Linked DNA regions of Homo sapiens: regions 2 and 3 are each linked to region 1. The links come from fine-mapping of genetic effects on gene expression. A gene starts in region 1. Each other region holds a variant in brackets. All regions are shown on one strand. Distances are between the middles of the regions. Region 1 holds the start of FNIP2 (folliculin interacting protein 2). Region 2 overlaps FNIP2 (folliculin interacting protein 2). Region 3 has its middle 15 kb from the start of RAPGEF2.

Evidence for each region. PIP is the estimated chance that this variant, and not a neighbour inherited with it, causes the effect. A credible set is the group of variants that fine-mapping cannot tell apart.
Region 2: its variant is the best candidate, but not a certain one, in a credible set for the expression of FNIP2 in lung (TOPMed, PIP 0.57).
Region 3: its variant is the best candidate, but not a certain one, in a credible set for the expression of FNIP2 in tibial nerve (GTEx, PIP 0.53).

The regions. Positions count from the first base shown.
Region 1 is chr4:158,764,591-158,772,776 of GRCh38, forward strand. FNIP2 (folliculin interacting protein 2) reads left to right here and starts at 4,436. Exons shown (of 17, transcript NM_020840.3): 1 at 4,436-4,729. The coding sequence starts at 4,623. RefSeq lists a silencer at 4,177-4,386 and an enhancer at 4,344-5,081.
Region 2 is chr4:158,905,520-158,913,705 of GRCh38, forward strand. FNIP2 (folliculin interacting protein 2) reads left to right here. Exons shown (of 17, transcript NM_020840.3): 17 at 1-2,531. The region is part of intron 4 of SPMIP2 (sperm microtubule inner protein 2); the gene reads right to left. It also overlaps the pseudogene LOC124900178. Among named protein-coding and RNA genes, the nearest start is that of SPMIP2, 130 kb to the right of the region's middle. The variant T/A (reference allele first, on the strand shown) is at 4,228.
Region 3 is chr4:159,084,306-159,092,491 of GRCh38, forward strand. No RefSeq gene overlaps it. Among named protein-coding and RNA genes, the nearest start is that of RAPGEF2, 15 kb to the right of the region's middle. The variant C/T (reference allele first, on the strand shown) is at 3,936.

The DNA.
Region 1 (8,186 bases):
CGGCAAAGAGAAGAAAATTGATGAAAATATTTCTAATAATTAGAAAAAGCAGATGTCTAATGCAAAAAGACAGAGGACTCTATACTTTAAAGATGATGGTGAAATTTTATTTATTTAATTTTATTTTAGAGACAGGATCTTGCTCTGTTGCCCAGACTGGAGTACAGTGGTGTGATCATAGCTCACTGCTTCCTCGAACTCCTGGGTTCAAGTGATTCTCCTGCCTCAGCCTCTTAAGTAGGTAGGACTACGGGTATATACCACCATGCCCAGCTATTTTTTTTTTTACTTTTTGTGGAGAGAGGGTCTCATGCTGTTGCCCAGACTGGTCTTAAACTCCTGGGCTCAAGCAATCCTCTCACCTAGGCCTCCCAAAGTGCTGGGATTTATCGGTGTGAGCCATCGTGGCTGGCCTGAAACATGTAAGTGAAATCTCAGATTATGAGTCTTTAGATAATGATATCCTAGATACATTTTCTCAAACTCAAGAACTGACAATTCAACAACATATACCTAAGGATAAAAAGGAAATAGGGTATTCTCATCCAGTTTGACATTTAATAGGAATTACTTCCTTATTCAATACTTTGCAACAAGAACCTGAGCCATCCTAAAAAAGTGTGATATCTTGTCATCTTTCATGGTGTTGTGCATCCAATATACTTCATATAGTTTATAAGATAACAAATGATAAAGGCAGATGTATATATACAAAGGTGAAGGGAAGGAAATCTATAAGGAAGAGATGAAAAAATTCATTGGATTGCTAATTCTACTTGGTGTTTATAAATCTAAAAATGAAAATATTTTGCAACTAAGAAACAAAGAAAATAACTACTGTCTCTTCAACAAAATGATGAGCCATCAAAGTTTTCAAAAGCACTGCTTTTTGTTTATTCAAGTGCAAGCAGCACAAAGGTAATGATAAGTTAGAATCGTTAGAGATGTATTTGATTCTGGGTGTGGTGGCTCACACCTGTAATCTCAGCACTTTGGGAAGCTGAGGCAGGTGGATCACTTGAGGTCAGGAGTTCAAGACCAGCCTGGCCAACATGGTGAAACTCTGTCTCTACTAAAAATACAAAAAATTAGCCGGGCGTGGTGGTGGGTATCTGTAGTCCCAGCTACTCTGGATGGTTAGGCATGAGAATTGCTTGCACCCAGGAGGCGGAGGTTACAGTGAGGCAAGACTGCGCCACTGTACTCCAGCCTGGGTGACAGAGTGAGACTCTGTCTCAAAAAAAAAAAAATGTATTTGAAGCCTGGAATCAATATTTATAAGATGATTGTGTTCCTGGTTCATATATGCTAATTGATAAGTAGTCAGTTACGTTCAAAGAACACTGTCCATTTAGGGTAAATAATCCTTCAAATGCAGGAAAATATAGAATAAAAAACGGGTTTGCTGTACTGAAATTAAAAATTTTTTAAAGAATTATTTTTCACTATTCCTTTAGTCTTAGCTCTGTAAATAATTTGCAAAATCACTTAACAGTATGAAAAAACAGAACAGGACCATTGGTGACAAGTATTTTCTCTGGCATATTGAGAGATAAACAGATTGGCATTATGTGTCTCACATAACAAGCAATAAAGAGGACAGAAAACACGAACCTGCCTCAGCCTCTTATAGACTGGTCTATAAGAAAATAGAAATATTATCTCACCTAATGGAGAGTGTCAGGTTAGGGCAGAGGGATTGTGGCTCAATAATGCCATCAAGGACCCAGCTCGCTTCTATGTCTCTTTGCCATCTCCAGTCCTGGTTTCATCTTTAGGCTTGTAGCAAGATGGCATTAGACCTAGACATATAACATCCAAAGGAAGAAAAAAACCCACCTATCTCTCTCTCTCTCTCTTTCTATTAAGAGTGAGGAAACTTTTTCCAGAATTACTCCTTTTCCTCCAGCTCCTTTCTCTCTTGCCTCCTGTTAGGAATAAGGGTAACAGGTATTACATAGGCTACAAACGGTATCAATGACAGTCTAATTGCAGAAGCAGAACTAAAACAACTTACATAATATCCACTAATTGAGAACTGTCACCAGGACTCAGAATGGACCGGACTAAGTAAGTCAGCCCTTTACAACTTCCCCTTTCCCATTTTAGTGTTGTTCTGTCATCTCCAAGCATTCAGGATATTGTCTTATTCCCTGCTCCTCTTGACAGCTGCGTACAAGAACAGCCAGCTGGTATATTTTCCAAGATAGGGTGAGTGGGAAGAGGTGAATAAAGGAGATGTATGGAACTGGGCGATGGGCCACGTGACCAGTGTTGGAGACTGAGATTATGACAAGCCTCAGGGACCAGGCAATGACCAATGGATGATGGGCAAAAGATTGGATTTTTGTAGCGGCCTTGAGTAGCCAATAAAATAAAATAAAAATAAAAAACAAGAAGACTGGGAGAGCTGGCTAGAGCTGTCTCCCAGAACTTTTTTGGCTAGGATTTTTGTATACTTTAAAAATCCAAAGGAGGAGGTGTGGCCAGAACCAGGATGAGGAAGAATGTGATGCTGAGAGGAAGCACAGGGAGAAAGAGGGGAGAAGGGAAGCATTTTGGTTCCTTTTGTCTCCTTTAACTGAAGTCCTGGCTTTAATAGTTTAAAATACACACTCTTCCTTTATAGTTGCCTAGTCAAAACCAAAATTGAAGATGATGGCTAGAGCAGGTTATGATTTTTTAATTGCCTCTTTTGGATGATCTTGTCTATTTGGACTGGGTTGGAACTGAAAGAGTCCTAGGAAGTGAGGAATGAGGCACAATATGTCAAATTCCTCTTCTATATGCAGTTACAAAAGCTGCTAGGCTCATGAGGAACATGCAGATTTTAGTCTGGAGAATAAAGGACATTTTCTGACCAAGGATGGAGTAAGGAAAGGTGGTGAGTTGCTGGCCACAGTATGACCTGGGACTGTATCTGAAAGTCACAACGTATAAAGCCAATACCTTCTATATAGCATCCTGACCAACACTGGCAGCCCTATGAGGTAAAGGCCTTCAGCAAACAGAAATAGCAAAGTTGCAAATTAGGGTTCTGTGTACACTCAATTGTGCAAAAGGATGATTGCTCATCAGGATAAACACTTAATCCACCATTTTAACAGTAAAAGTCCGAAGGAAACAAATGACTAAGTTTCCATTTCTACCACCTTTCTCTTACCTTTGTGAAATTTCAGCACATTATTCACAGCTAGTTCCCAACCAAGTCCAGAAACTAACACAATTAAAAAAAGAAAATGCAAAGTAAAATAGGCCCAGAATAGGTTCTTTTGATTACTTATGTTTTTGGAAATATATTTTCCTTTTTGAGTCTCCAAGAGTCCTCCTCTCAACAAGTGTAAGAGAGCCCAGGTGAGTCACTGTTCACTACTCATGGAGAAGCTAGAAGAGGCATGGTTGGGGTCTTACTAACTTTATCTCTATTTCCCATCATCGGAAAAATTCGTGAAGCCCAACGCTCTAAAACATAGATTAAGAAGTTGCTTTGAGTCTGGTAACGTGTCCTACACTGGCTGTTTAGAGCCCTGCACCACCAAGGATTAAATTCCAAAGGGGACTGGGGTGGGACAGGGCAGGAAAGCGGACTCAAACACATGAACTCCTCCCTTCCTCAAACCAAATATCTGCTGCTGATATGCCTTGATTGACTGTTAAATATGTATTAGGAAAAACAATCCCTTGCTATAAAATATCTTAAGTTTCTAAATCTATGTAGTGAGTTCTGTGTGTGTGTGTGTGTGTGTGTGTGTGTGTGTGTGTGTATGTTTTAAAGGGGGGACTTAATATTTCAAATGCAACTTCTTATATAACCATGGTATGGTGGCCCAAGACGCCAAACAGAACAAATGATTTGGATAAACAGTTTAAATTTTGTGAAAGCCTGGAGGAATCGAATTTGGACATGGAGGAAACCTGACAAAACCTTGGGTGCTATGTGATTCAAATCACAGCCCACCGAAGCGGCCACCGCGCGTACCAAGCCTTCCCCCCTAGCATACGCCTTCTGTGAACGGGCTCTTGTACCTGAACAAAGCGAGGACCCAAGTTCAGGGGCTTTGTCTCTAAAGAACAAAGATCGGCCTAGCTGCATGCTCGCTGTGCGAAAGAACCCAGGCTCCGTGGGAACCCCACGCCACTCGCGGAGCTGCGCCCCGGCGGCCGCCCTCGCCCCTCGGGCCCCTTTAAGTGCCGCGCCTGCCCCCGTCCGCGTCCCCCGCGTGCCCGGAGTACTGGGCCGCCCGCCCGCTCCTGGCCGCACCTCCCACCTCCCGCCTCCCGCCGGGGTTACGTGAGCCCGGGGCGGGCGGCCGCCGGGCCAATGGCCGCCGCCGGGGCCGCCGCGCTCCTCCCGCGCCGCCGCCGCCGCCGTGGGGCTGCGGGCTCCTCCCGCAGGAGATAACTGTCAGCGCGCGAGGCGGTGGCGGGCCGGCTCAGTCATATGACCGGCAGCCGGCGGCTCCGGCGCCGAGCAGAGTTACTCAGTCGCAGCGGCCCCGCGCTCCCGCAAGGCTGGGCGGCCGCGCCGCCGCGATGGCCCCGCCACCGCGGCCGCCGCCCCCGGCTGCGCGCTGAGCCGCCGGCCCCCCGAGCGCCACGGCCGGAGCTGCGGCGGCGGCATCATGGCCCCGACCCTGCTCCAGAAGCTCTTCAACAAAAGGGGCAGCAGCGGCAGCTCCGCGGCGGCGTCTGCCCAGGGCAGGGCTCCTAAGGAAGGACCCGCCTTTAGGTGAGGGGGCGCCGGGGGGCAATTCTGGCGCGGGACCCGAGTTGGCTTCGGTGCTCGCCGGGGAGGGGACGGGTAGGGGAAAGGGAAGGGACTGTCCAGGACGGCGCTGCCTATCGCCGGCACCTGGTCCCGGGCTTGTCAGCGTGGACGCGCCTGATCCGAGTGTGGCTCCGGACCCTCCGTGACCCTTCCTCCCGCTCTTTCTCCACAACTCAGGGTCCTTCCCCATTTCAGAGTTCTCTTGTGTTCCTTGGGGTTCCCGGGCGTGCGCTGTGCTTGGCTGTGGCGACCGGAGATTCTCCGGTTATTGGGGTGAACCCCTTCCGGGCAGAGCCGCCTGGGCACCTCTGCGGGCCCAGCAAAGCTGTGAGCTGTCATTTTGAGGGCAGCTCCAACCTATTGTGTACGTGACAGTGTTTTGAAGTTCTGAAGGAGCAACAGTCACGAAAAAGGCATCTTTCTTCTTTCTTGCCATATATGACAAGCTCTCAAACGGATGAATGAAAGTATGTAATTTCCACATCATGTGGAAGGTTGATGCCGCATGATGTGTGGAAAGGGGGAGTAAGATGCAATTATGAAATTTCCGAGATTTCAATTGATCAAAGCTGATATGTATATTTAATAGATTTGATCTCTCGAACACATACCTTTGAATATTGATAGCATTTATGGAGAGCTTACTACCTAAAATGCTTTATGTTGATTTCTGTCGTTTACTTTTCTGACAATGCGGTGAGGTGGGTGCTATTATAATTCCCATTTTACAGGTGAGGAAACTTAAAGTCACAGATAACTTAGGCGGCTTGCCCAAAATCCAGCTGTCAGTGGTAGAGCCTGTGTTTTGACCCAAGCAGTTTGACCACAGATTCCAGTCTTTAAAATCCCTATGCTATTCTGATTTCAAGGGCTAACTTTTAAAAGACGCCTTAAAATGTCCTATATTGCCTTTGAGCACAGGTATGTTGAGAAGTTTATTTAACAATTTTTCAACACATTTTAAAATTGAGCACCAACTCCCAATTCTGACACTATGCTAGGTGCTTTTTGGCCAAAATGTCTTGCAAAAACAGTTCACTGTTAAACAGATCTAGACCCAGTATAATAAACCTTTAAAAGTTTCAAGTGAAACTTTGAAATAAATTCTGGATTAAGTTTTATGTTCTAGATTTTGCTTTTCTTGAATTCCATCATTTAAAACAGTCTCTCACTGTGGTCATGTGAAAATTAAACGTGTGTGTGTGTGTGCACGCGCGCTCATGGAAGGCATATTGTGAGGACCTTAAACTCCCCAAGTTAAATTCTCATGTTTTCTTTAGGCTAACAAGCCTTATAATTTGAGTGGGAATTCTATGCCTTTTGTTAGGCTGAGTATTAGTGATGCCATGTACCTTCTCAGAATGGTAGAATTACTTCGGACCTAAGGTGTGTAATTTCGTCCCTTCCCTCCCTGTAACCCAGACTCCATCAGGGGTACAAAGCCTGGAGCGGAAGGAGCATGTTACAGGTGTCTGTACTTTGACAGCTCTTGCCAAGGACATTTAAAGCCATTTGAATGCAGGAGGAGATAGTGGCGGTTACTTGTCATTGTTTTCTGTGCTCCTTGCCTAATTGCCTACCACCATTTCCGCTATCCACAAGTTTAACTGAGTGTATTTGAACAAAAAAAATATGGCTATATTTAGGGTTTTGGGCCATATTAGGGAAATTGATTCCCACTTCATGGGAACATTTTCAGTAGTGTTCTGACTTCTCATTTGTGTATAATGAAGAACAGAAAATCGTGCCAAGTACGGTCTTTTTTTTGACCTCATTGGGATTTTCTACAAGAATTTGAGATCGATGTTTTTGGAGAATTTGGGGATCCCAGTTGAACATCCTACTTGATGAGGGCCCCCTTCAATAGTGTCCCTGATAGAGGTCACCATGGAAAAGAAAGTAAAGTAGCAGATGTGAGCAAGGATGCTGGACGATGGGAACAAACCATCCTGTGCTCACCAGACTGACAAAGGAGACCCCAAGCAAGTCTTTCCTTTTGCTCTTTTCACCTGGCTTAATTCTAAGATGCTGTGTAGCTGGCCTGGGAAAAGCTTCCAGGAAAATTTTTCTCTCTACCTAAAAAATTGTGAACCTGTGTTTCATTTTACCCAGATTTTGCCAAATAGGAGTTGGTATGTACTTTGAGGGGAACAAGGTGCCTTATTGCAGGGCATTAGCTGCCCTTGGGAACTACCTTGTAGTTAAATAGAGTTTTAGAAGTGAAGCTAAAACCCTTAGATTAAAAATCGAGTATTCCTAACATGAATTTGTATTCTTTAGTGCATTTAAGTACAGGATGTAACTTGTTTATCTGGAGATTGAAAATTCACTGAGGATTCAGGTAGACTTTTGGGGCAGTTTTGTAGTGTATATGGGGGAGAATCTAAGATCCAACTTTTTGTTTGTTTGTTTTAGAGTTTGTATATCTTCTGTTTCCATGATGGACTTTCACTGGTTATTTTAAACTTCTCTTCTCAGAATTGTTTTGCCCTTGTTGTTAGTCTTTTTACTCTTGTGCACTTCCTAGTCCCTTCGCTGGGCTTATGACTGTTCTCATTCCTCCAGTTTTTACACACTTGATTAGAGAGGAAATCTGTTGTCCAATATAACTAGTTTATCTCACAGGTCATTTTCAGGACTTCATGTTTCCTGGCATTTCATCTAAAAACAGGATCATCATAGTCAAGATTTCTTCTGGAGTATTTCCTTTAGGATCTTGACAGAAAGCCCTTTTCATAGCTTTGAGGAAACAGGTTGCTAGGAAAACAAAAGGAATCACGATTGACCAAACTTACATGTTTGGGAGAAGTAGTCAGGAATGCTATATGATTATGGCATTTACATTTGAATAATGCTTCGTACCAGAAAAATAAATTAGGACAAAAAAAATGATGTGTACAGTGACTCAAGTCAGAAATAGAATTATGTTCTTGGTTACCTTGGATTTAAGGCCAGGATGTTTTCAAGCCACGCTATGTCCAGTGACTTACATGTGTGGTTCACGTTTGAAGCATTATCTTAAGGTTGTTCTTGTTGTTGTTGTTTTTTTCTCCATGTCTTTTGTAAATTAATGGAGCAGTTTCAAACCCCTAAAATGTGTATTTAGCAGGGAGGTGAAAAGACCTTGGGCTACCAGATGTTCTTTTATTTTGGAGCAGTTAAATGAAGTAGGGAAGCATATATATTATCTGGGATATGAAGAACAAGTGAAGGCATTGCAGCTGCTTGTTAGCTAGCTGTGTGAATGCCAGAGAAGAGTATACCTAAGGCCAAATGGCCTAGTAAGTGCTGATCCCCACTGTTTTGTTAGAACAAATTTAATCTGTTATAGAGTTAGTATAAGTATAATTTAATCCACTTATCACATAGCATCTGATGCCTCTGTGCTTGTGGCTTGGCGCTCTACCTGTATAAATCC
Region 2 (8,186 bases), 140 kb after region 1:
GGATGACTAATGAAAGCAATTAGCTTGAACATTTAGAAAAAATTCATATATGATCTAAATTTTTATATTATCATTTCTGTGCCTTCTAATTCCTGCATCCTTTTCAAAACATCTTTCCAGACATTAACTTACACATTGTATAAAACCGACCAAAATGATTTCCTAAAGTTCATGCAAAAAAAAAAAAAAAACAACCTAATTTTCTGTTAATATAAAAGAAACTTCAGTTTACTGACCGTGAAACAGACTATGTACTGACATCCAGGGTAAAGTAAAAGACTTTTAAATATTGGTCATTAAAGGACAGGAGCTAAGCTAGCAAAGCAAAACATCTTTAGCACTTTGCAGATCTCAAGCAGTTAACCAGGCTCTGATTCCCTTCCACTGTTTTATGAATTAATTCCAGTTCTTTTCATGTATCTTTGAACCTAAGATTATGAAGTAATTTCCCTATTAGGGACTAGAATGACTTCAGTTTTTTCATTTGATAAAAATCAGAACTGCTACCTTTCCCTTTTTTAATGATGCAAAATGTAGATGAGTGCATTAAGTTTTGTAAGATCTTTATCATTTTATGTCATTCATTGAAAATTGAAATGTTCATTCTTTTTAATGTTTTCCTATTTCCTTTTGCCTAGCATTTGACTTTGGTGTTTTAAGTTCTGTAGTTCCATGACATCATTGTTTGCTGTTGTGTTACAGAGAGAGAAGGAACCTCACCTGTGGCTCAGCTCACCCCACATCCGTTTCTCATTACGTGTAAATAAACTGTCAGAGCTGATGTTACAGCTTTTACAGTTTAAAGCATTCCCCTCGTCTCTAGTTCCTTTTTTCTTGTTTACATGTTTTGGGCACTTTCCCTCATTCACCACCTTCCAGGGTTTCATAGAAAATAACTTGTTACAAAATCAGTTCAATTCTAATGTGGACATAGTGGCATGTTCATAATTAGACCCATATAGGGGACACTGAGCTTTAAATCGTTGATTCTAAACTCTATACATTAAAAAAATTCAGCCCAGGCCCCTCAAAGCCTGAGAAAATTTAATTTGCTCTTAATTTAATGTTCCAAAACTCACTCTTGGAAAAATGCCTGTTGGAAAACTACAGGTGGGTCACATGTGGGGGCTGTCTCCGTGACACTCAGGATTCCAGTCAGAACCTAATCCTCATATCTATTGCCTACAAAAATAGACCAAGAATGTTGCTGCTCTTTTATAATCCTTTAAATATTTAACATTCAAGTTTTCTTTGTCTTAAATTCAGCCTCTTCCTAAAAGCAAAAAAGAAAAAAAAAACCTCACAGAATTGTGTTGAGATCCACCGCTCACACGCCGTACACCACCCAGTGGCTTCATTCTGGCTTAGCCGCAGAGGCAAGAAAGGGACCCCACTTGCTCCCATGCCCACCTCAAGAAAAAACATAAAACAATTTTTTTTAAAAAAGAAAAGAAATCTACCTCAGTTGACAGGATTCCACCTTTAGGGTTTCTTCAACTTTTAAGTCTTACCTGTTGAGTGTAACTTTTGTAGCATCTTGCTTTTCCAAGCAAGCTAGTGAGGCATGACAGAGCAGAAGTCTGTAAATGTCCCTGTGATGGACCTCTTTCTAGCATGTTGCAGTTTTATTTTTAATAAATTGGTAAGTGAAATGAATGTAAAGGTAATTGTGTACGTTTTAGACATGACAATGAAAATTTAAAATGTAGCTTCCATACTTGTGCATAATTCCAAAGTATTTTATTTTTTATCAATCAGTGTTAAATAGCTTTTTGTACAGGCTTCAATCCATTTTTCGAAGTGTGCTGTTTTTTAATGAAAGTAACTATAATCTTTTCACATCCCATGGAACTGCCGTTTACACATTGCAACTTTTTAAACTTAACCATATTTTTCAAAATTAACGTTTTTGGAGGGAGAAAAATCCCCGCTTGCTAAATGATACTAAACCGTTGTTTGGGCTCTTATAATTAGGTCCTGAGATTTTATAAAAATTTAGTCTGTAGCTTTTTAGGTTCTTCACTAGAGTTGGTTGTACATAAAAATAATAAAGAATATAAAGTATCCCAAAATTCTTTTAAAGTCTGGATTTTTCCGCTAATATGTACTTTAGAGAATATTTTGTTCATGCATACTTCCACGTTAAATTGAAAATGTCTTCAGCTTCTCTTGGTAAATGTGAACCATTTGTTTTTTATTGTGCTTGGGGGAGAGGGTATTTTAATATAATTTTTGCCTAAATCAAGAAGTCCCCTCTGAATGTTAATTTTTAAATGTCAAAATATGATGAACGATATATCTTGAAAGTGAGATTGCAATATGCTTAAACTTAAGTGGTATTTCAAAAACGAGAAAATTCTGGAATTTGTCATTTGAAGCTCCATAAGAGAAATTGATAGGACTTCGTTTTTGATCAGTCTGAATAGATACCAATGTCATTGTGTGGGAATTTTTTTTAACTTGTTTATGTATTATTTTGATCCATTTTTCTGTGGCATTTGGTGCAATAAAACTTTTGAATTTATCTTGAACATTTTCCTGGTGCTGCATGCGATTTGTTATATTTAATAAAATGTAGAGGTCTCATTTCTAATAATTCGTGCTGAAAACAAGCTGATTATTTATCTCAGTGGTTTTTAACCGGGGTGTTTTGGAAATGCAGGGACATTTTTGGTTAGCATAATGCCAGGTTAGGGTTACTGGCACAGAGAGGCTGGGGGCTCAGATGATAGGCGAGAGGTCCTGCACCATGTGAGACAGCCCCATGGGATGAGGACTTGTCCCACCCACCTCCTGCGTAACCCTTAAATGTCCTGCTGGACATTTATATGGCTAAAAAAGCCTGTTTATAATTAAGCAGATAATTCTGCTATACATAAAAAACACAATGTATTTTTACATGATTTTTGTATATAATGCATTCTCCAGGAATGCAATTGTTGTATAAATTGAGGGAAGATTTTTACTTTGTAAGATTTAGAATTTTAGCAAGAAGTGGTCACTTGGTCTTTACCAAGAATTGATATACTTTTGGAAAACTGCGTTTCCAATGGTAACATAGTTTGGTAGCTATGGTACCCATGGAATTTGAGTCACCAATACAGGACATCTCTGTCAGTCTTCATTTGTAGCCCCTGCATTCATGAAGACTCTGTATATAGATGCCTACTTCATTATATTTTTTGAGATGGGGTTTTGCTCTTATTGCCCAAGCTGGAGTGCAATGGTGCAATCTCGGCTCACTGCAACCTCCGCCTCCTGGGTTCAAGTGATTCTCCTGCCTCAGCCTCCCAAGTAGCTGGGGTTACAGGCATGCGCCACCACAACTGGCCAATTTTTTGTATTTTTAGTAGAAACGAGGTTTCACCATGTTAGCCAGGCTAGTCTTGAACTCCTGACCTCAGGAGATCTGCCCACCTCAGCCTCCCAAAGTGCTGGGATTACAGGCGTGAGCCACTGTGCCTGGCCAACTTCATTATATTTTCTAATCTACTGCCCCAATATTTATGTATTAAAGTAGTATTATAAATTACTTTTAAATTTCTTTTAAATTACAGTATAATAGGGCATTATATTGGTATGATATAAATTGAGTATATTTGTAAATTTTATTTTAGGTTAATAAAGGGGGCATTACAAAATATTTGCTCTGAAAAGGGATGATGTCCACAGATATATTTGTTCTCAGGAAAAAATATGCCACTGAGAGCAACTGTTGGTACCAACATAATGCCATACTGAGTTATGTTATCTTAAAGACTGGGGGGAAAGTTACAGTAGATATTTCAAAATCCTTTCTGATAAATGAAAATTTCAAGTGTTTTTCCCTGAAGCTTTTTTTTTTTCCTTTTCGTGCATGTTCAGCTCTCCAAGGATGGCTTCCCTGCTGTGTACTCGGGTGAAACAGCTTTAAAATCATGCCATTGATAAAAGGAGTTAAACGCACGTGCACACAAGAGTGCTTTTTGGTTCCCTAGTGCCTGGACCGTTCTGTCAGACGCTTTCTGTATGTTACCTCATTTAATCCTCACAATGGATGAGGGGTACTGTGATGGTTTTTTTTTTTTTTTTTAAGAGACAGGGTCTCACTTTGTCACCAGGATGGAGTACAGTGGCATGATCATAGCTCGCAGTAACCTCAAACTTCTGGCCTCAAGTATCCTCCTGCCTCAGCCTCTCAAGTACCAGGGACTACAGGCATGCACCAACACACCCAGCTAATTTTTT[T/A]AAAAAAAATTTGGGGCTGGACGCAATGGCTCACGCCTGTAATCCCAACACTTTGGGAGGCTGAGGCGGGCAGATCACGAGGTCAGGAGATCGAGACCATCCTGGCTAACACGGTGAAACCCTGCCTCTACTAAAAATACAAAACATTAGCCGGCCGTGGTGGCACGCGCCTGTAGTCCCAGCTACTCAGGAGGCTGAGGCAGGAAAATTGTTTGAACCTGGGAGGCAGAGGTTGCAGTGAGCTGAGATTGTGCCACTGCACTCCAGCCTGAGCAACAGTGAGACTCCATCTCAAAAAAAAACAAAAAAAAATTTGTAGAGACAGGGTCTCACTCTGTTGCCCAGGCTGGTCTTGAACTCTGGGCCTTACATGACCCTCCTGCCTCAGCTTCCCAAACCGTTGGGATTACAGGCATGAGCCACCAGGTCTGGCCTGTGATGGTTAATGTTATGTGTCATCTTGGCTAGGCGATAGTAATCAGATATTTAGTCAAACACTAATCTGGATGATGCTGTGCAGGTATTTTTTTTTTCCTTTTTTTTTGAGATGGAGTTTTGCTCTTGTTGCCCAGGCTGGAGTGCAATGGCACGTTCTTGGCTCACTGCAACCTCTGCCTCCCGGGTTCAGGCGATTCTCCTGCCTCAGCCTTCCTGAGTAGTTGGGATTACAGGCATGCACCACCACGCCAGCTAATTCTGTATTTTTAGTAGAGACGGGGTTTCCCCATGTTGGTCAGGCTGGTCTTGAACTCCCGACCTCAGATGATCTGCCCGCCTCAGCCTCCCAAAGTGCGGGGATTACAGGCATGAGCCACCACTCCCAGCCCAGTGCTGTGCAGGTATTTCTTAGGTGAGATTAATATTTAAGTCAGTGGACCCTGAATAAAGCTATTTATCCTCCATAATGTGGGTGGGCCTCATTCAACCTGTTGAAAGTCTTAAGAGAAAGACTGAAGATCCCCCAGGGAGAGAGAATTCTGCCTGAAAACTGCCTTCAGGCTGGAGCTGCAACATCAGTTTCTCCCAGGGTCTCCATCCTGTTGGCTCACCCTGCTGCGTTTGGATTTACCAACTTCCACAATCACAGGAGCCAACTCCTAAAAATAAACACCCCTCCCTGGCTCTTGCTCTCCTACATGCACAACACACACATCATTGGTTCTGTTTCTCTGGAGAACCCTGACTGATACAGATACTTAGGAGATCAGTCCAATGATATGGTATGATAACCCAAAATGGAGTTGAGTAGGATCAGAAAATTGTCATTCCAAGTTACAGGAAGTAGGCTTTCAAGCAAATATCTTTAACATCATAAACAGTACCAACTTAAGAGTTATCCCATAAAGGCTGACATAGATGTCACGTAGTCTCTGAATATGTGTTGCAAAGAATTGGAAAACAACCCTCTGAGAAGGAAGGAGGTAACATTTCGTTAAAAGTGGTGGAAAGGCCCAGCGCGGTGGCTCATTCCAGTGCCTGTAATCCCAGCTACTCAGGAGGCTGAGGCAGGAGAATCACTTGAACCCAGGAGGCGGAGGCTGCAGTGAGCCAAGATTGTGCCACTACGCTACAGCCTGGGCAACAGAGCGAGACTCCGTCTCAAATAAATAAATAAATAAATAAATAAATAAATAAATAAAATAAATAAAAGCCCAGCCCTGTGCACTCCAGTGACCCAGCTGATTCATCTTCTCCAGCCTCATCACCAGATAATTCTGTGTTCTATATTCCAGCCACATTGAACCACATGTACTTCCCCAAAGGTGCTAGGTTATTGTCTTTGCCCTGTCTGTTCTTCCTAGAATAGACTTCCCTTTGCCTCATCAAGTCCCCCGTTCCTAGCACAAAATTCAATTCATTGTCAAATCCTCCAGCACCTTGCTACTCAAGGTCCTCAGACCAGCAACAACTAACTGCATTTCCTGGGAGCTTGACAGAAATGCAAAATCTCAAACCCCATTTCAGACCTACTGAATCATAATCTGCATCTTAACAGGATCCCCAAGTGATTTGCATGACCTTTAAAATTTGAGAATACTGCTCTCAAACTCGAGTGGATGAGGAAAAGAATGTATCAGTCACTGAGACTGAAGTCTGTGTATTGGAATGAAGGGGGACAATGAGAACATTTGCCAGCAAAGAAATGAAATAGAAATAAATTATGTTAAAAGTGTCTATCATATGCACATAAATTATACAATGCATATGATATATGCATTGTATGAAGGAAAAAAACTACCAGAAATCCAGAAGGGGAAAATAATGAATGTATTATTGTATGAAGGAAATGTATAATAATAAATAATGAATGTATTATTGTATGAAGGAAAAAAACAACCAGAAATCCAGAAGGGGAAAATAATGAATGGAATAGAAGATAGAACTTAAGAGACATTTTGTGATTTAAAAAGAGAGATTAGGGCATTATAGAAGAAGTGGTTTAGAGACTTGCTCAATGGATTTCCAAAAGTATTTTTAAGAGCATTTTTGGGTAAATGTATATAAGAATGATACATACTGTTAAATCTCATAAATTGTACTTTTTAGAAACATTGTAATTAAGCTCTCTAACCTTAAGTTTATACATGGAAAACCAAACTCAAAGCATGGATATAAAATATTCCCATTTTCAACCATCTATTTTGATGGGAAAGTTTATGATACTGTCTATAGGTTTAAGCTTTTAAAATTTCCCCCAAGTCACCCAGTAACACAGACAAATTTCTACTTAAGAGACTTTCAGTGCCTGGTTCTGATTCTTGTCGTGTAAGAATGGAAAATGTGTTGGCATCTCAAGTAAGAATAGTAATGATAGCCACTCACTGGGGGCTATGTGTGAGGCACTGCGTTGGAGGCTTTTCACATGTGGTATTCATTATTTGCTTTCAAATATGTAAGAACATTTGTTCCAATTTATTTTCCCTAAAGAGGATTCATGTAAAAGAGAGGGGTGTTGAGTATTTATTGAAGCATCCACACAAATTCTGCAGGACAGTCCAAAAAATGGATTTGTGGGACAAGTATCTAAAGTAACTCTGGAAATTTAGAAGAAAGCCTCATTGATAAAAAGATAAATTATTTTGAATGATTCAGTATTTTGTTTATTTCTGGAATGGAAGGGGTATGACCAAGTGCTCAACTACTCTCAGGAATAATGGGTTAAACCGACCTCAGGTGCCTCTTGATGTGATGCACTGAGCATGAGGCAACGTCACTTATCTGGGATTCCTGACAAAAACACGTAACCTGAACCCACTCGTGAGGAAACATCAGACAAGCCCATACTGAAAGATTCAGAACTGGCCTGGATTCCTCAAAAGTGTCCATGTTATAAAAGACCAGAGTGAGGAACTCCTCCACATTGAAGAGGACTAAAGAGACGTGATAACTCAATGTAATACATGGTCCTAGACTGAATCCTGGATCAGAATATTACAAAGGTCGTCAGTTAATACTTTTTGTTGTTGCTGTTGTTGTTGTTGTTGTTATTTTTTAAGACAGTCAGGCTCTCTGTCACGCAGGCTGGAGTGCAGTGATGCAATCATAGCTCACTGCAGACTTGCAGACCTGTGATCGAGCAAGCCTCCCACCTCAGCCTCCTGAGTAGCTGGGATTACAGGCATGCACCACCACCCCTGCCTAATTTTTTATATTTTTTGTAAAGATGGGGTCTCACTATGTTGCCCAGGCTGCTCTCAAACTTGGGCTCAAGTGATTCTCCCACCTCAGCCTCCCAAAGTGCTGGGTTTATAGGTGTGAAACACCACCATCTGCTATTTAGTAAAATTCGACTATGAACTTTAGATTAGATAATAATACTCTATCAATGTTAAATTTCCTGAATCTTATAAATTGTACTGTGTTTATGTGAGACAGCATCCTTGTTCTTAGGAAATACACCCTGAAATATTTAGGAGTAAAGGGTCTAGCCTGTAGACCATTTATTCCACAGGGTCTGT
Region 3 (8,186 bases), 320 kb after region 1:
TGTTAGCAATCTATAAATTTAATAATATGAATGCGGATGAGTTATCCGTTATCCTTTTGTATGAGATAAGGAAGTGTATTTAGAGGACAGGTACAGTTACAAAAGTTACAGACTACCTCTGTAGAGCATAGAGCAATCGTTTAATTTGGTTATATGTAGGGCGAAGCTATCACATGTATTTGTGTTAAAAAAAAAAATAAAATGAAAAACTTCCTGCAATCATGGAAAACAGAATAGGGCTTGATACTTGAGTGTTAAACAGGTTTGCAATCACCCTGAGTAATCTAGCAGACAATCCACCACCCACCCTATTATATAAGGAATCATATTTAGTTTTTTTTAAAAGCATATGTTTAAATTTAGACACTTTTTTGGCTGATGCACTCTTGCAAAGTTGTCCTTGAATAGGAAAAGGTAACTTACCACAGTCACAGCACACAGCCATTGTTCCTGGTTGCACACCTTGTTCCTGGTTGGGGCAGGTGCCCCCAAATCATGCTGGATTGTCTTTCCATGGTACCCTCATGGCTGACCAGGCCTGGATACAGACTCTTAGAAATCTTAATGCTGACAAAATTATGGTGCACCACCCCCCCCATATTCAATTCTCAATAAAACAATGCTATTTTTTTTTTTTTTTTTGAGACAGAGTCTCGCTCTGTCGTGCAGTGGTGTGACCTCAGTTCACCGCAACCTCTGCCTCCCATCTGCAACCAATCAAGTGATTTTCCTGCCTCAGCCTCCCGAGTAGCTGGGATTACAGGCATGCACCACCACGTCTGGCTAATTTTTGTATTTTTAGTAGAGATGGGATTTCACTATGTTGCCCAGCTGGTCTCAAACTCCTGACCTCAGGTGATTCACTCACCTTGGCCTCCCAAAGTGCTGGGATTACAGGTGTGAGCCACTGTGTCCAGTCAAGTAATGCTAATTTGTATGGTAGAGTCCAACAACTTCTGATTTTTCTTTTAATGATATTTAATTATTTCATTGAATTTCTTACGAATTGTACTGTTAATGTGATTAGATAAAAAATGTTTTCATCAGTAGGAAGTACGTGCTGAAATATTTTGAAGTTTAGTGTCGTGATGTTTGGAACTTGCAAATTCTTTAGTAAAAAAGACCCTATGTGTATACACACACACACACACACACACACACACAGAGAGAGAGAGGCAGAGACAGAGAGAGAGACAGACCAACAGACAGAAAGACAAAGAGAGACAGAGATGGGCACAGACAGAGACAGAGAGATGGACCGAAATGTGGTAAAATATGTATGATTTTTTTCAAATTTTCTGTAGGGGGGAAAAACACATAATCACTAAAATTAGAATGCCAAGTATCAAAAGAAGCATAGTTGATAAGTATTTTGTGTAAACTTATTTATTTATTTTTTTGAGGCAGGGTCTCCCCTCTGTTGCCCAGACTGGAGTGCAGTGATGTGACCACTGCATGCTGCTCACCATAGCCTCAACCTCCCAGACTCAGGCAATCCTCCCACCTAAGTCCCCCAAGTATCTGGGACTACAGACATGCACCACTATGCCTGGCTAATTTTTTTTTTTTTGTAGAGTTGGGGGTGGTCTCATTATATTGCCCAGGCTGGTCTCAAACTCCTGGGCTCAAGCAATCCTCCTGCCTTGGCTTCCCAAAGTGTTAGGATTAGAGGCGTGAGCCACTGCGCCTGGCCAAGTCACTCATTTTAGATAAACGGATTTACAAAAGCACACAGACATAAATTCAATCAACCTCAGAAGTCACTGGACAAAACGCCAAGCCAATTACTTTCTAAAGAAGTCCAGCCTTTAAAAACAAACTATCTAGTTTCTTTTGATGAATTTTTTCTTCTACAACTTTAGCTTTCTACCAACTCAGAACCTAAGAATCAATAAAGCAATATTTCTTACACTGCCTTAATCAAAAATAGGTGTTTTCTTCTTTTTTTCATCCAATTAGTACAACTTAGTGACTGTTCTATGCCAGGGCTAGTGTTGGGCTCTGAATATGCAAAAATAAAAAGACAAGGGCCCCGTCCTCAAGTTCACAGTCAATTGGTGAGGCAGATTTTTGACACATAATTACAGTATGATGTAAAAAGCATTATAATAATGGTATGTATAAGCTGCTATGGGATCATGGTTTAAGAAGCCTTAATTTATCTGATGAGAAAGGAAGGAGGTGATAAATCAGGTTATAATGATACAATAATAAGTAATAATGGCAACAACAACAATAATAATAGTGGTCATACACCGGGCAAGTCCTAAATACAACAGTTATAGAGGGGTAGGTAAGGGTTGACAGTTGGCATAAGCCAATACAAATTACCAGGTAGGGAACAGGCCCAGGATATGGCAATACAAATCTTGGGTAAAAAATGCTAGCAAGTCTACCTGGCTAGAACATTTTTGCCATTGCCACAAACTCCCTTCGCACATATTTCTCATATGTCATCTAGCTAATATTGCCTCCACCCGAAAGAGGCCTTGAGGCTCACAGGAGGTAGGTATGCATTTTGCCTCTGGAAAAACAGCTGGTGTGTGGCAACATAGAATCTAGGTTAGAACTCAGGTGTCTCAGACACTTGCTCCATTTAGTATGTAATGCCACCTGCCCACAGACCTTTGCTTAGGAGAGTCTTTAATAAAAGAGGAGTGGGAAGTTCAGCATCAGGGCTTGTACCTGTAATTGCAGCTACTTGAGAGACAGAGGCAGGAGGGTCTTTTGAGCTCAGAAGTTTGAGGCCAACCTGGGTAGCATAGCAAGACCGTCTCAAAAAAAAAATAAATAAATAAATAAATAAAGGTGGAATTGGGAGTAGGAATTTCACAGGTGAACCAAGGAGAAAAGAGAATTGTAGTCAGGAGGTGCATATGCAAAGCATTAAGGAATTAGAGAGTTTGGCAAATTCTCCTAGACGCAATTAATTATTAGGCATAATTGGAGTAGAAGGTATTAGAAGAAAAAACTAAATAGTCCTACCTGCCAGAACACAGGGCTCTTGAATATTATGCAAAGGGAATTGTACTTTATGGAGTAAGCATTGGAAAGCCACTGAAAGACCTTAAGCTTTGGAATTCCATGATCAGATTTGGTTTTTAGAAAGATGACTGTGCAAAGGCCAGACAGACTCTAACAAGAAGGGAGTCAGCCAAGGGCAAGCACCAAGCAGGGGTTGAGTCTGCACTGTGACTGGAGGCACCTGGCAGGATAAAAAGGTCTTACCCTTTGCCTGTATTCTCTACATAATTTACAGTCCTTCTTTCAACATGACGAAATGTATCATTTTTCCAAAATAATCATAAAAACCATCATGCCAACATGTTATTTTAAAACTGTGGTGGCACATGCCTGTAGTCCCAGCTACTCAGGAGGCTGAGGTGGGAGGATTGCTTGAGTCCAGGAGGTTGAGACTGCAGTGAACTGTGATCACATCACTGCACTCCAGCCTGGGCAAAAGAGCTAGACCCTGTGTCCAAAAAATAAAATAAAATAAAATAATAAAATAACATAACATATTTAAAAGGTATCATTTTTGCAAATGGTGCCCAGGGAAGCAATGGTTTCCTCTACTACTTCCAGCAATGCTTCTCCTTAAATGGCATTTTGGAGGGATTAAAGACAGAAAATAAGGTTTAGGAGAAAGAATGCCTGAACTAGGTCAAAGACAGTAGGAATGGTGGTGGGGAGGATTGGCCTTGTGATTCAACATAACTTGATAACTGATTGACTATGGGGCCAAAAATGAGAAAGTGTATCAAAGATGACCCCTTGTTTTGCCTGAGCAGCTGGGTAGATGGTGGTGTGAGATATGGGAATATTTGGAGAGAAGATTTTGGAAGACAGATGCTAAGTTTAAATTTGAACATGTTAATTTTGCATTTGGATGCCAAAATTGTTTCAGCACCACTTATCAAAAGATTGTCCTTTCT[C/T]TACTGCACCTTTCTAAGAAATCAGTTGACCATATTTTTGTGGGTCTATTTCTGGCCTTTCTATTCTGTTTCATTGGTCTATGAGTCTATTATTTTGCTAATAACGCACTGTCTTGATGAGTGTAGCTTTATAGTAAACCTAGAAGTGGGGTGATGTGGATCCTTCAACTTCATTCTTTTTTATCAAAAGTGTTTTGCTGGGGGAAGGAAAGGAGCAGGGAAGGGTTGAAAAACTAACTGTTGGGCACTAAGCTCAGCACTTGGTGATGGGATCATTCATACCCCAAACTTCAGCATCATGCAGGTAACAAACTGGCACATGTACCCCCTGAATCTAAAATAAAAGTTGAAAAAGAGAGAAAAGTGTTTTGCCCTTCTATATGAATTTTACTGTTGGCTTGTTAATATCTATAAAGAAACTTGCTAGAAGTTTGATTGAGATTGCATTGATTTGATAAATCAAATGGCAGAAAACTGACATCTTAATAATATTGAGTCTTCTAACCCATAAACATGGTATATTTTTCCATTTACTTAGACATTTTAAATTTCTTTATAAGGGTTTTATAGTCTTCTGAATACAGATCATGCATTTATTTTGTTATATTTATCCCTAAGTACTTCATTTCTTTTTGCTGGACTTTTTGATTTTGAGGTGTCTGTATAAGTCTATTTGCAGATGTGGGAAAATAAATATAGAAGTCTGGAGGTCTAGGGTGTCATTTAGGATAAAATTCAAGTTTAGTGTAGTCACATTTCTCAGAACGTGTCAGATTTTTCATGGACAAAAAACAGAGAAGAAAATAGGGCTGAGGACTAAGTCACCTTAATCACCAAATCACCAACAAATGGTTAATTATGGCACTTGATGTTCTAAGTTTAAGAAATGAGTCAAGGAAGACCCAAGAACCCCCAAAATCAGATGGTACCAAAGAGTATGTGTCTAGATGCTGACTCTGGGAACATGCTAAGTCTCTGTTCTCATATTTGTAAACAGGTATAGTAATAGTGCCCATTTCATAGGGTTATTGGAAGATCAAATAAGACAATCACATGGAGGACACGGAAGAATGCTTGGCATATAGTGAGCACTCAACATCTGTCAGCCATTCTTACCAGTTGTGTAAATTACTTTCTAGGAGCTTACTGTGGGAATGTCTTGGAAAAAACGTCATGGCTTTTAAAATTCCTGGTATTTTCTGGCAATGACTATTGATTTTCACAAGAAAAATTGGGATTCACTACTAAAATAAGTTTTCTTACATGAAATATGCCCAGGTCTGGGTACAAAGGTAAACTGTACATAATAAAAAATTTGTGGCTGGGTGCAGCGGCGCATGCCTTTAATCCCAGCACTTTGGGAGGCCAAGGCAGGAGGCTCACTGGAGCCCAGGAATTCGACACAAGCCTGGGCAACATAGTGAGACCTCATGTCTACCAAAATAAAATAAAAATAAAAAATTAGCCACACATGGTGCTGCATGCCTGCAGTCCCAGCTACTTGGGAGGCTGAGGCAGGAGGATTGCTTAAGCCCAGGCGGTCGAGGCTGTGGTAAGCCATGATCACACCACTGCATTCCAGCCTGGGCCACAGAGTGAGACCCTGTCACAAAATAAATAAACAAATTGTAACATCTGGAATTCTCTGCTAAAAGCTCTTCATTTAGAAACCATGCCTGCTTGCATTTTTAAAAAAATTAATACATAATTATTGTATATATATGGGATACATGTGATATTTTGATACATCCATTCAATGAATAACAATAAATCAGAGTAGGATATTCATCACCTCAAACATTCATTGTTTCTTTGTGTCAGGAATATTTCAAATCTTCTAGATATTTTGAAATATATAATAAATTGTTGTTAACTGTAGTCAACTTACCATGCCATCAAACACTAGAACTTATTTCTTCTAACTGTATGTTATTTATTTGTTTTGAAACAGGGTCTCTCTATGTCTAACATTTGTTATTTATTTGTTTTGAAACAGAGTCTCTCTCTGTCACACAGGCTGGAGAGCAGTGGAGTGCAGTGATGCCATCTCAGCCCACTGCAACCTCCACCTTCTGGGCTCAGGTGACCCTCCCATGCCAGCCTACCGAGTAGCTGGGACTGTAGATCCACACCACCAGACCTTTAAAAAATTGTTGTTAATAAAATTACTTTAATTATGCTAATTAAATGCATATTTGAATTAATAAAATAATTAATTTAATTAAGTACATAAATTAATTGTTATGTTAATTAAATACAAAAATTTGGTTAATTTTTATATTTTTTGATACAGATGGGGTTTCACCATGTTGGCCAGGCCGGTCTCAGACTCCTGCATTCAAGCCATCCACTTGCTTCAGCCTCCCAAAGTGTTGGGATTACAGGCATGAGCCACCGCGCCTGTCCCTAACTGTATGTTTATAACCATTAACCAACCTCTCTCTTTATCTCCTACACCCCCTGCTTGCTATTTTTGATATGTGTTTCAAACATCTCCCAAATGAAGTATGAGAAACGTAATTAGGTATTACCATGGACTCAGAATTCATATTTTTCCTTCCTATCCCTCATCTTCCCCAATGATTGCCTAGCTTTGCTCACAGATTTTATCCCCATGGTTTAGTCTGTCTCCAGCTCTGCATGAGACCAGAGTTCTTCAAAATAATCTCACTTTAGGGAAAGGACAGAAATTGGACAATGACAGCTCTATGGTCTGGACATTGTTTGGCACTTTGTTGGGGAAAAGGGGAGAATTGAAACTCTTTACTAAAGTTATTATTTCTCCAATTTCATTCTCACTGTGTTTACAAGAAAAGCCAAAGGAATGACTTCCTCAGAAAGGGGACCACTCTCTAATATTGGCAGGTACCAGGATAGAGGCCCACAGCTAACTGTGCTACTGAGATAGTAACGGAAAGTATAGATTCTCTAATCAGGCAAAAGTGCCTGTACTCCTTCAAGATCTCTTGTAGCACATTGTCAGGAAAAAGCCAATCGGTCTGAGACTCAGTGCCAAGACTCCTGCTACCATTCCTCCCAGAAATTCTTAGGTGGCTTTGTCTTCACAAGTTTCCATAGTTCTTGATGGAAGTTGTGTTAGACTACATAAAATGTGTCTTGCAAGTATTTTAAAAATGACCATCAAGATAAATCAGTAGACACTGACATTCTTCACAGAATTAGAAAAAACTTTAAAATTCATATGGGACCAAGAAAGAGTCCATACAGCCAAAACAATCCTAAGCAAAAAGAACAAAGCTGGAGGCATCATGCTACCTGACTTCAAACTATACTACAAGGCTACAGTAACCAAAACAGCATGGTACTGGTACAAAAACAGACACATAGACCAATGGAACAGGATAGAGATCTCAGAAATAAGACCACACATCTACAACCATCTGATCTTCATCAAACCTGACAAAAACAAGCAACCAGGAGAGGATTCCCTATTTAATAAATGGTGCTGGGGAAACTGGCTAGCGATATGCAAAAAATTGAAGCTGCACCCCTTCCTTATACCTTATACAAAAATTAACTCACGATGGATTAAAGACTTAAGTGTAAAACCTAAAACCATAAAAACCCTAGAAGAAAACCTACGCAATACCATTCAGGACATAGGCATGGGCAAAGACTTCATGACTAAAACCCCAAAAGCAACTGCAACAAAAGCAACAATTCACAAATGGAATCTAATTAAAGTAAAGAGCTTCTGCACAGCAAGAGACTATCATCAGAGTGAGCAGACAACCTACAGAATGGGAGAAAACAGATTTTGCCATCTATCCATCTGACAAAGGCCTAATATCCAGAATCTACAAGGAACTTAAACAAATGTACAAGAAAAAAAAAAAACATCAAAAAGTGGGCAAAGAACAGGTGAACAGACACTTCTCAAAAGAAGACATTTATGCGGCCAGCAAACATATTTTAAAAAGGCTCGACATCACTGATGATTAGAGAAATGTAAATCAAAACCACAATGAGATACTAGCTACACCAATCAGAATGGTGATGATTAAAAAGTCAAGAAACAACAGATGCAGGCAAGGCTGTGGAGAAATAGGAATGCTTTTACTCTGTTGGCGGGAATGTTAATTAGTTCAATCATTGTGGAAGATGTTGTGGTGATTCCTCAAAGATCTAGAACCAGAAATAGCATTTGACCCAGCAATCCCATTATTGGGTATATACCTAAAGAAATATAAAGAATTCTATTATAAAGACACATGCATGCATATGTTCACT